Linked DNA regions of Homo sapiens. The protein of the gene in region 2 purifies or fractionates together with the protein of the main gene of each other region. This does not show direct contact. Each region holds a gene or a part of one and is shown on either strand. Other genes may lie near its edges.

Region 1 (3,881 bases), on a different chromosome or scaffold from region 2:
CACACCTGGCCAGATCCAGTCTTTAAAAAAAAAAAAATTCTTAACCTTCAGAAAGTATCAGGATTACTGAGGGCTTGTACTGAGGGCTTGTTTACAATGCATAGAGTCCTCCCTCCAGGTTTTGAGTGAGGCCTGCGATTGGGTATATTTAAGAAATGCCTCAGGTAATTCTTTTTTTTTTTCTTTTGTTTTTTTTTTTTTGAGACGGAGTCTTGCTCTGTCACCTGGGCTGGAGTGCAATGGCATGATCTTGGCTCACTGCAACCACTGTCTCCCGGGTTCAAGTGATTCTCCTGCCTCAGCCTCCTGAGTAGCTGGGATTACAGGTGCATGCCACCACGCCCGGCTAATTTGTGTATTTTTAGTAGAGACGGGGTTTCACCATGTTGGTCAGGCTGGTCTCGAACTCCTGACCTCGTGATCTGCCCACCTCGGCCTCCCAAAGTGCTGGGATTACAGGCATGAGCCACAGTGCCTGGCCTGCCTCAGGTAATTCTTAAGAGTCCCAAACACTGCCTTAAACCAGGAATAGACTGACTTCTACTGTAAATGGGTCAGAGAGTAAACACTTTTGGCTTTGTGGGCCAGATGTCTCTGTAACTACTCAACTCTTGCTTTGGTGGTACAAAAAAAAAAAAAAAAAAAGCCACAGGTTCATAAATGAATGGGTGTGGCTGTGTTCCAATACAATTTTATTTATAAAAATAGGTGGTGAGCCTGATTTGAGTTTGTGGGCCATCGTCTGCCAGTCCCTGGTTCTCTTCTATATATAAGCAATAAAGACACAGAGATGTGTGTATAAAAAAGTGATATGTCTTTAATTTAAAATTATGACCCGGAAATAACTAGTCAGTTTAAGTGATCCAGACTTCCTCTTCATACCCAAATGGAACAGACACAATATTGGCTCAGATTTCCAACCCCAGAAAAAAACCAAACCAAGTCCTCAGGAAGTCCCTGCAGCGACCTTGCTGGGGCCATCAGACCGCACAGAGTGGAGGTGCCCAAGCTGCTAGGCTGCTCTTAATCCAGCCACACTGAGAAGAGCTTTCCTTCTACCAGCAACTCCCTCGCTGGGTCCGATATCCCCCTTCACCTCCCTTTTAGCTGGCACTGCACGAATGCCTCCACAGAGAGGCTGACAGTACAGCAGTCACCTCCCAGCTGTCTTCGGTGCATCTTCAGGGCCACCTTCCTGTGGTCACAATAGAGGAGTTGAGCATTCTAAACGTTCGTGCCCAGGAGGGCAGCGTCTTCTCTTTTTAGCTGAGGTCTGGAGCCCTGAGTTGTAACCATTGGTCATATGTGGCTGAGGCACCGACAGCAAATCGCCAAACTTGGGAAACGATCTGGGGAGATGCAAGGGCCTTGGTAATTGATGGTGAGTCTGAAAATGAAACAGACAAATGGCATCTGGGTAAAATCCTTACAGACATCTCAGAAGAGAAAGTGTAAAGATGGAACAGGGAACAGCACCTCCTTCAGCACTCCAAGGCTCTGCCTGCTCTTCCCTGAGCATAGAATCCAAAGGGTCCCATTTGTTTTTTTGGTTTTTTCTTTGTTTTTTTTTTGAGACAGAGTCTCGCTCTGTCGCCAGGCTGGAGTGCAGCGGTGCAATCTCGGCTCACTGCAATCTCCGCCTCCTGGGTTCAAGCGATTCTCCTGCCTCAGCCTCCCGGGTAGCTGGGACTACAGGCGTGTGCCACCACGCCCAGCTAATTTTTGTGTTTTTAGTAGAGACGGGGTTTCATCATGTTGGCCAGGATGGTCTTGATCTCTTGACCTCGTGATCCACCCGCCTCGGCCTCCCAAAGCGCTGGGATTACAGACTTGAGCCACCTCGCCCGGCCAGGGTCCCACTTCTTAGGTCAGCTTCGCCTTTTCCTCCTCCTACGTTCAGGGTCAATTATGGCTTTGGATTCACTCAGCTACTCAGAGGGAGTCTCAAGAGAACAGAAGGCACTGAGCGGTGTGGCAGGGGAAGAGTCCAGCATGTGATGCTCAGCAGGGCTTTTTTTGCACTGAATTTTGGAAATGTGGAGTCAGCAGAGAGGAAAGGAGGATGGGTGTGGCCACAGGGCAGCCTTCCTGGAGGCCTTCCTAGGAGGGGTTCACACACAGAATAAATACAACTGGCTGGATGCAAGCCTCCGCACAAAGCCAACAGGTCACTCAGACCCACTGCAGTGGGGCAGCAAGCTTCCACACTAGTTGGCTTTCTCAAAAATTTACAGCATCCAAAGCTTGACCTGAGTCAAAAGCTCTAGGGACAAACCACCAAAGGGCTGCCCAGAGATGCTGTTGAAAACCAGAGAGTGGCCAAACCGTCCCCACCATACACAGCATTCCTGAGCCAGACTGGCTGCACACTGCATGTATTACGGAGGCGTCCCAGCACACTACCTAACAAGGGCCTGCGCTGTGCCTGGGGTGGGGTCGGGGGAGAGCACAACAGTCATTGGAGTCCCCTGAGAACTGAGGCACAGTGAGGAGAAAAGGGTGGGGTTTCCTCCTCAGTCACACTACCTCCCAAAGGAGGAAGATATTATTGCTCAACTGCCAGCATCAGTGACATTACCCTACTCGAAAGGATGGCACCTGGGGTTGGGCAGCTCAGTAGAGACCCAGGCTGGGTGACGGCCCCCAGTGACAGCCCGTTGTGTTGTTCCTTACAGTTGTCCAAGACCAAGGCTGGGTCATGTCACAAGCCCGGGGTCATGACAACACATGTCCCATCACATGCACACGTGACCCCCTGCTAACCAATCTTCTGGATCTTAGCAAGGCAGCTCAAGTAGGGGGAGTATGAGTTTGGGTCCCAGGAGCCCAACAAATTCCTCTTCTCAAAAACAGTGCAACCCCTAAGCGTTTATTAAAGAGGGAGCTGTGCACGTGGCCGGTCTAAGGCCAAGGCCAATCACAGGACCCACTTACAAGTCCATGGAGTTTTCATCCCATCATGGCAGAAGGCTGGCCTGACCCCTGCCCTCACTGGATGATGCTGTCTGGCTGCCCATTCTGGGCCACCTGCCCAGGGTCAGAGGCGGGGGCCGGGTTAGCTGTGTTGCTCTGCAGGTAGCGGCGGAAATCTTTGATCATAGGCCGGAGGACCTGGATGAGGACGCTCAGGGCAGCCTGTGTGCCCTCCATGGCCTGGGCCTGGCGCTCCTGGGCACAGGCCTGCACTTCCTGGGAGCGGCGGATCATCTGCAGTAGGTCGTTCTGCTGTTCCAGGTGCTGTGCGATCTCCTTCACATGCAGGTTGGTGACCCGCTGCTCCTGTATCAGCTTGGCGGAGTTGAGAGCAATGCGGCTCTTGAGCGCTTGCGGCTTGACCGACGTGTCTGCATGCTGGGCCATCATGTCCACAGGGGTCTCTGGTGGCAGAGGTGGGGGCGCCTCAGCCGTGCAGTACTCCACCACGCCCTCCTCCAGCGTGTGATAGGTGGTCTCTGTGGGGACTGCACAGTAGAAAGAACAGAGGCCAAGGGAGGTCACTTTCTGGAAGGAATAAAGCTGGCTGTATGGGGTGGGGAGGAGGCCATAAAGTCCTGTCCTGGAGGGACATAAAGGGGAATCCAGGCCTCCCCTGGCTGCATAGCTATTCACATATAAATCTAGAATCTAAGGGGTTCAGAATTTTTTTTTTTTTTTTTTTTTTTTTTTTGAGACGGAGTCTCGTTCTGTCGCCCAGGCGGGAGTGCTGTGGCGCGATCTCCGCTCACTGCAAGCTCCGCCTTCCGGGTTCACGCCATTCTCCTGCCTCAGCCTCCCGAGTAGCTGGGACTACAGGCGCCCGCCACTGCGCCCGGCTAATTTTTTGTATTTTTAGTAGAGACGGGGTTTCACCGTGGTCTCGATCTCCTGACCTCGTGATCCGC
Region 2 (7,260 bases):
TTAGGAGTAGAAGAGCTGGGTGAAATAACATAAAATACATTTATTAATATATATATATATATAGGCTGGGCATGGTGGCTCACGCCTGTAATCCCAGCACTTTGGGAGGCTGAGATGGGCAGATCAACTGAGGTTGGGAGTTCGAGAGCAGCCTGACCAACATGGTGAAACCCCGTCTCTACTAAAAATACAAAATTAGCTGGGCATAGTGGCGCATGCCTATAATCCCAGCTACTCAGGAGGCTGAGGCAGAATTGCTTGAACCTGGGAGGCGGAGGTTGCAGTGAGCCAAGATCGCACCATTGCACTCCAGCCTGGGCAAAAAGAGCAAAACTCTGTCTCAATAATAATAATAATAATAATTTTTTTTTACGTTGGTGTGGTGGCTTACAGCCATATTCCCAGAGCTTTGGGAGGCTCAGATGGGAGGATAGCTTGAGGCCAGGAGCTCAAGACTAGTCTGGTCAACATAGTGAGACTCTGCCTCTACACAAAATAAAAAAAATAAAAATAAAATAAGAAAAAAAAGTTTAATTGTTTTGGAGACAGGGTCTTGCTATCTTGCTCAGGCTGGTCTCAAGGTCCAGGCTCAAGTGATCCTCTTGCCTTAGCCTCCCAGATAGTTGGAATTACAATTACCAGTTGTACTAGTACGTGCCACTGTGCTGGCTCTAACAGTATGCTTTAAAGTTTTAATAATGTCTATTAAATGTTGATTTTTTAAAAATTAAGGCTAAGAAAATTCTCACCTGAGGTCTCATAAAAAACTGACAGGACTGAGACTCAGCTCTACAGACTGCCATATCTCATTCTACTCCACTACATAATTTTTCTTTTTCTTTTTTTTGAGATGGAGTTTTGCTCTTGTTGCCCAGGCTAGAGTGCACTGGCGCGATCTTGGCTAACCGCAACCTCCGCCTCCCGGGTTCAAGCGATTCTCCTGCCTCAGCCTCCCGAGTAGCTGGGATTGCAGGCATGCGCTACTACGCCCGGCTAATTTTGTATTTTTAGTATAGACGGGGTTTCTCCATGTTGGTCAGGCTGGTCTTAAACTCCCAACCTCAGGTGATCTGCCTGCCTCGGCCTCCCAAAGTGCTAGGATAACAGGCATGAGCTACACGTGCGGTCCCTTTTCTTTCTTTCTTTTTTTTTTTTTGAGATGGAGTTTTTGCTCTGTTGCCCAGGTGGGGGTGCAATGGCGCCATCTCGGCTCACTGCAACCTCTGCCTTCTGGGTTCAAGCGATTGTCCTGCCTCAGCCTCCCGAGTAGCTGGAACTACAGGCGCCTGCCACCATGCCCAATTTTTGTATTTTTAGTAGAGACAAGATTTCACCATGTTGGCCAGGCTGGTCTCCAGCTCTTGACCTCAGGTGATCTACCGCCTCAGCCTCCCAAAGTGCTGGGGTTGTGTGAGCCACCGCCCCCAGCCTACATAACTTTTCTATGCCTCCAAACAAAATGAAAATTCACACTTGCAAACTTACCCAGAAGCCAGCTATCTTTGTGCATACCCGCTTCAAACTGACTACTGAGGGAAGACTGCTGCAGCACAGCACAGTCCTGTAGGCTGCCGGGCCAGTTTGTCTCCACGGTCATTAGTGTCCCTCTAATGTCACACACCATCAGGCAGTTTAAAGAATGCAGGCCTTTTCGGTTCACATAGGAGAGGTCTTCAGCATTTGGTGCCTTGATGGCCACATGGATACAGTCAACCACCCCCATCACCCCTGGCATCCCTGCCAACCCATAGAATTCATCCTTCAGAGCCTGAATGGAGGCTTCATCAGCTGGAAAGCGAATGAACTGTGAGGCCCTTTCCACAAGTGCTTCAGTGACATTGGCAACACAACGACTCATAGACGCCTGACTGATTCCAATGGCATCTCCCATCCGAGTCTGGAAGGAACCTGAGGTATAAAAACCCAATGCTGCAAGGACCTGTGTCTCTGGGCTAATAGCCCTGGATCGCTGAGTAGGCCTAGAAAGATTCGCCCCCAAGAGCTCCACCAAGTAATAAATGAACTGCCGTGGAAACCCATACATGGACATCAAGTATTCATCAGTCACATCATCCAGCTTAAAACGGTCCAATGTCCGGTGACCACGGCCATATAGCAAGAGGTCACAGTCAAGCACTGTTATTGGTATAGCCATGGTAAATGTGAATGTTGGCTCTCCTCTTTGCTTTTTCTGAACTGTTCCCAATGAAGATGTTGGTGCAAGAACGTATTTTTAAGAAAGTATCAGAATCCAACAGCTAACCACAGTTAAATGGCTCTGCCATTTATAATCTTCTCTCTGTAAATGTTAAAAGAAAAAACATTAGGAACCTACCAAAGACTTTAAAGTGACTCAAAGGCTGGAGCAGCTCCTTTTCTACAAATTTCCATTTTGTTGAGGCAAAACGTACTGTACTTACAACTCCGGATTTTTCTCCACTAACTCATGGCTGCACGACAGGCTTGCTCTGATTCAAGGATAATGGGAATTCAATCTTTGTGGCTCATTTAATGCTTGGCATTTCAATTGAGAACACCAAAAGAATAATGGAGGTGATGACATAATTATTCACAAGGTAAAAGAGGTCGGCTTCTAACTATATAGGCCAAGAAGCAGCTGACATATGTCATAACCACCTTGGGTAAGAATTGGTCACGGGTTTCATTATCCAAAGACTTCTGGTTTCACCTGACAAATACAGGACAGATGCTGGGGTGTTCAAACCAGTCTAACAAGAAAAGAAGGGGCAAAAAAAAAAAAAAAAAAAAAAAAAAAAAAACAACCAAAGTCCACAACCCAGCCTTATGGACGTACACTGTGTGCTGTAACAAAAGGCTTTTCCCTCACTCCAAGAACTCCAAATCGTGAACCTGAGGGCCAGGAAGTACGGAAGACCAGACACATTGGAAGTCGGGAGCGAAAAAGAGGCTGGCCGAACCAGGTTTGGGAAGCGACTCTGCCACTTTTAAAGGGCACCCTAAAAACGGATGTCAAAGTCTGATTGCGCCGGCCACTCAGTTAGCCCAGGCCCGTCACCCACCTCTCCGCGGCTGCCAGGTTACCAGCCACACTTCCCACCCACCCAGCCGGGTTGGGCCCTCCTCCGGAACCGGCGACTGCACAGAGGCCGCCACGGCGCGCAACAGCGGCACCGCCCCTTCCGCGTCAGCGCCCGCCCCGCGCCGCGCCCTCACTGCCGCTGCCGCGGCTACCTGCGGTTCATCTCCGCACATTCCACACGCGGCCCAAACGGTCTCTCTCTCTCTCTCTCAAACACCGCCTTTCCGTCTTTGTTTTATCTTGAGTAGCTTAGAAAGATTGGAGAAGAAAGCTTACGTGGAATGAAAATCAACTTTTATGGATATTTTGAGGACTAAAAGAATAAATAGGGCGTCCGTACTGTAGCGAAAGTGCGACTAAGGTTAGGCATCTGGATTTCCCCCGTAGCCCTCTTTCACCCCCCCCCCCCGGCCATTACCGAAGCGGATGAAAACAAACACTAACGATGGCGGCGCCGGGAAGCGACCGGCTGCTGGGCTTAAGGCGGGAGTGACCGCTTAACCAGTGAGGGAAGCACTGAAGAGCGCCAGTCGACGTGGGTGCGACAACTCGCGGAGTCTTAGGAGCAAAACGTCTGGGGCCTGCGAGCCAGGACCCTTCTGAAGCCTTAGGTGTCTATCGGCGACGTGTACGGTCACTGCAGCTCCGGAGCGCGGAACCCTCAGCCAGGAGGCGCGGCTGGTCGGTCCCAGGTCCCGGCCTCCGTAATGAGAGCCCGGAACCACTCTTTGTGCCGCAGCTTCGCAGGTACTAACTTTTGCGGGGGATACCCCAAGATCTCTCAGCGCCCCCGGGTGGGAGGCTGTGGATCTGCGGCCCCTTGGCTGCTGCTTCGTGGAAGTAGAAGGGATTAGCCACGGTTCAATCCCCTGGGCCCCTGAGTTTTCTGTGGGAAGTTGAGTTGGTCTAGGCCCCGTTGGCCCCTGCTTGTTTGGCAGAGAATCCCCTCCACCCCAGAGCTTTCCTCTCCACTTTTTCAGCTCCTTGGGTTAGGTCGTCAGGCGTTTTGGAGGTAATTTGGGGGGCCATAACTCCGGGGTTGGGTGCCAATATGAGTGAGGTAGGTTTTCATTCAATCAAGATTTGCTGAGTGCCAAATATGTACTCCGCGTGTAGGTGAGGGTGACTGTTGACTAGTGAAAAAAGGGACCCATGGTTCACGACTGTCTTCTTACTGGCAGTGGAACGACCTGTGGAAACCTGTGATCCATTCTCATTAAATAAATCTCTGGGTAAGTGGCTAAGCACCTTCTTGAGCTCATCACTAATTCTTCCCAGTTTTCACTTTTCCAGTGAGTTCCCAGTTAGCCTGGTCAATTCAGCGTAGCATTTCACTTTTGGTATTTCTTCGTTCTCTGGCCACCCCGCAGCCAAAAAGAAAAAAGAGATTTTAAAAAATTACCTATTTTCTCATTACACTTAGTTTAAAACTCATCTCCTAAGGTGATAGAATTTATTGGACACCTTTAGTGGGAGATGTATTATAATAAGAAACAACAAGCTCTTCCTTTACACTAAATTAGCTTCCAGATTTTGTGTGTTGTTTTATGACTGTTAGTCCTTTTCATGTGTGCATGTAGTGGCTCCAGCTCAATTATGAGGTTTTTTTTTTGTTGTTTTCAACTCTCCATTTATCAGCTCAGGAGAAGTCTTTTAGTTTTTTAGATTTTAAAATTTTTATTATTATTATTAGAGATAAGGTATTGCTGTGTTACCCAAGCTGGAGTACAGTGGCGCCTTCATAGCTAACTTTAATCTCAAACTCCTGGGCTCAGGGAATCCTCCCACCTCAGCCTTCTAAAGTGTTGGAGTTACATGCATAAGCCACAGAGTCCGGCCCAGGAGCTTAATCTCGAAGGAAGTTTACTTGAACTTTAGGTGTGGAATATTCGAAAGTAACTTCCAACATGGGGTGTGGAGCTAAGTAAGATGAATTTACATAAACCGTCATTTTTCCTGCATGTGCTTAGTGGAGGAGAGTGCATAGAGTTGCTGGTCATTGCTTCCTATCAAATTGTGGAAACCAATAAAAACTGAAAATATTCTGCGAGAGAATAGAGGTACTGTAGCCAGGAGGAATGCAAAGGAGGCTGCCCAGAGGGAATCAAACCTTTCTAAAGTTTGGGTTTTAAATATTTAAAAGGATTTTAAGTCCCTAAAGGGATTTAAAGGTTATTTTAAATAATTAGCTGATTTTTTTTTAATGTCCTTGGAAGGTAGATTTCTTGCTTTTTTTTTTTTTTTTTTTTTTTTTTTTTGAGACGGAGTTTCACTCTGGTTGCCCAGGCTAGAGTGCGGTGGCGGGAACTCGGCCCACTGCAACCTCTGCCTCCCGGGTTCAAGCGATTCTCCTGCCTCAGCCTCCTGAGTAGCTGGGATTACAGACATGTGCCAGCACGCCCAGCTAATTTTGTATTTTTAGTAAAGATGGGGTTTCTCCATGTTAGTTAGGCTGTTTGTTCTTGAACTCCCGACCTCAGGTTATCCACCCGCCTTGGCCTCCCAAAGTGCTGGGATTACAGACATGAGCCACCACTCCTGGCCGATTTCTTGCTTTTAACTGAAGAGTAAATGTGGGCCAGTTTATTAAAAATCCTCTGAAGGGGCCGGGCAGGGTGGCTTACACCTGTAATCCCAGCACTTTGGGGGGCCGAGGCAGGCGAATCATGAGGTCAGGAGTTCAAGACCAGCCTGGCCAACAAGGTGAAACCCCGTCTCTACTAAAAATACAAAAAGTTAGCTGGACGTAGTGTTGGGCGCCTGTAATCCCACCTACTCGGGTGGCTGAGGCAGGAGAATCGCTTGAACCCAGGAGGTGGAGGTTGCAGTGAGCCTAGATCACGCCATTGCACTCCAGCCCGGGAGACAGCGCCCCTCTGTCTCAAAAAAAAAAAAAAAAAATTCCTCTGAGGACCAATATAGGTTACATAGGCAATTTGTCTGTGTTTTTTGTTGTTGTTTTTTGCAATGGAGTTTCACTCTTGTTGCCCAGGCTGGAGGACAGTGGCATGATCTCGGCACACTGCAACAACCTCCCCCTCCTGAGTTCAAGCAATTCTCCTGCCTCAGCCTCCCAAGTAGCTGGGATTACAGGCGCCCGCCACCACGCCTGGCTAAGTTTTTGTATTTTTAGTGGAGATGAGGTTTCACCGAGTTGGCCAGGCTGGTCTCCAACTCCTGACCTCAGGTGATCCACCCGCCCTGGCCTCCCAAAGTGCTGGGATTACAGGCGTGAGCCACCGCGCCAGGCCTGGCAATCTCTCTTATCCTGGTATTTTTTTGTATGCCCTTGGTCATAAGAGAAGGGATGAGAATGTGAATTACCACTGCTTAGAAAAACAACTCAATTGGGCTGGGCGCGGTTGCTCACACCTGAAATCCCAGCACCTTGGGAGGCTGAGGCAGGCGGATCACCTGAGTTCGGGAGTTTGAGACTAGCTTGGGCAACATGGAGAAACCCTGTCTCTACCAAAAATACAAAAATACCTGGGCGTGGTGGCGCATGTCTGTAATCCCAGCTACTCGGGAGGCTGAGACAAGAGAATCGCTTGAACTGGGGAGGCAGAGGTTGCTGTGAGCCGAGATCATGCCATTGCATTCCAGCCTGGGCAACAAGAGTGAAACTCCATCTCAAGAAAAAGAAAAACAACTCAATTAACGTGCATGGTTGACTTAACAGGGTCTCCTCAGTAAAAGTAAAGGTAAATCAAGAATTCATAGAAGTCATAACTTATAGAAACCTCCTGTGGAGCAGAAAAATAAAATGAAAGAAGTAATAACTTAGTATTGCTGTTTTGGAAAATGCTGCTTTCACTTTTGATTCATACATGTGAAAGAAATAGTAAAGAAATAGTTAAGAATCATTTTACATTTTTTTCTTTTTTTTTTTGATACGGAGTCTTGCTCTGTTGCCCAGGCTGGAGTGTAGTGGTGTGATCTTGGCTCGCTGCAACCTCTGCCTCCCAGGTTCAAGCGATTCTCCTGCCTCAGCCTCCTGAGTAACTGGGATTACAGGTGCGTGCCACCACGCCCGGCTAATTTTTGTATTTTTAGCAGAGACTGGATTTCTCCATGTTGGTCAGGCTGGTCTCCAACTCCTGACCTCGTGATACACCCACCTTGGCCTCCCAAAGTGCTGGAATTACAGATGTGAGCCACCGCGCCCAGCCATATTTGTTTATTATTTTGAGTTGTTGATA

Evidence for each region.
Region 1: the proteins of HARBI1 (region 2) and NAIF1 purify together in Homo sapiens (affinity purification with mass spectrometry; 2 studies listed by BioGRID and IntAct, with this or other methods). This does not show direct contact.

The regions. Positions count from the first base shown.
Region 1 is NC_000009.12:128,060,440-128,064,320, forward strand, and holds the end of NAIF1 (nuclear apoptosis-inducing factor 1), read right to left. Parts: intron 3,462-3,881; coding exon 2,989-3,461; 3' UTR 794-2,988; downstream 1-793. UniProt on the Homo sapiens protein: Induces apoptosis.
Region 2 is NC_000011.10:46,614,083-46,621,342, forward strand, and holds the start of HARBI1 (putative nuclease HARBI1), read right to left. Parts: upstream 3,146-7,260; 5' UTR 3,042-3,145; exon of another isoform or gene 2,412-3,041; intron 2,300-2,411; 5' UTR 2,156-2,299; coding exon 1,486-2,155; intron 1-1,485. UniProt on the Homo sapiens protein: Transposase-derived protein that may have nuclease activity. Does not have transposase activity.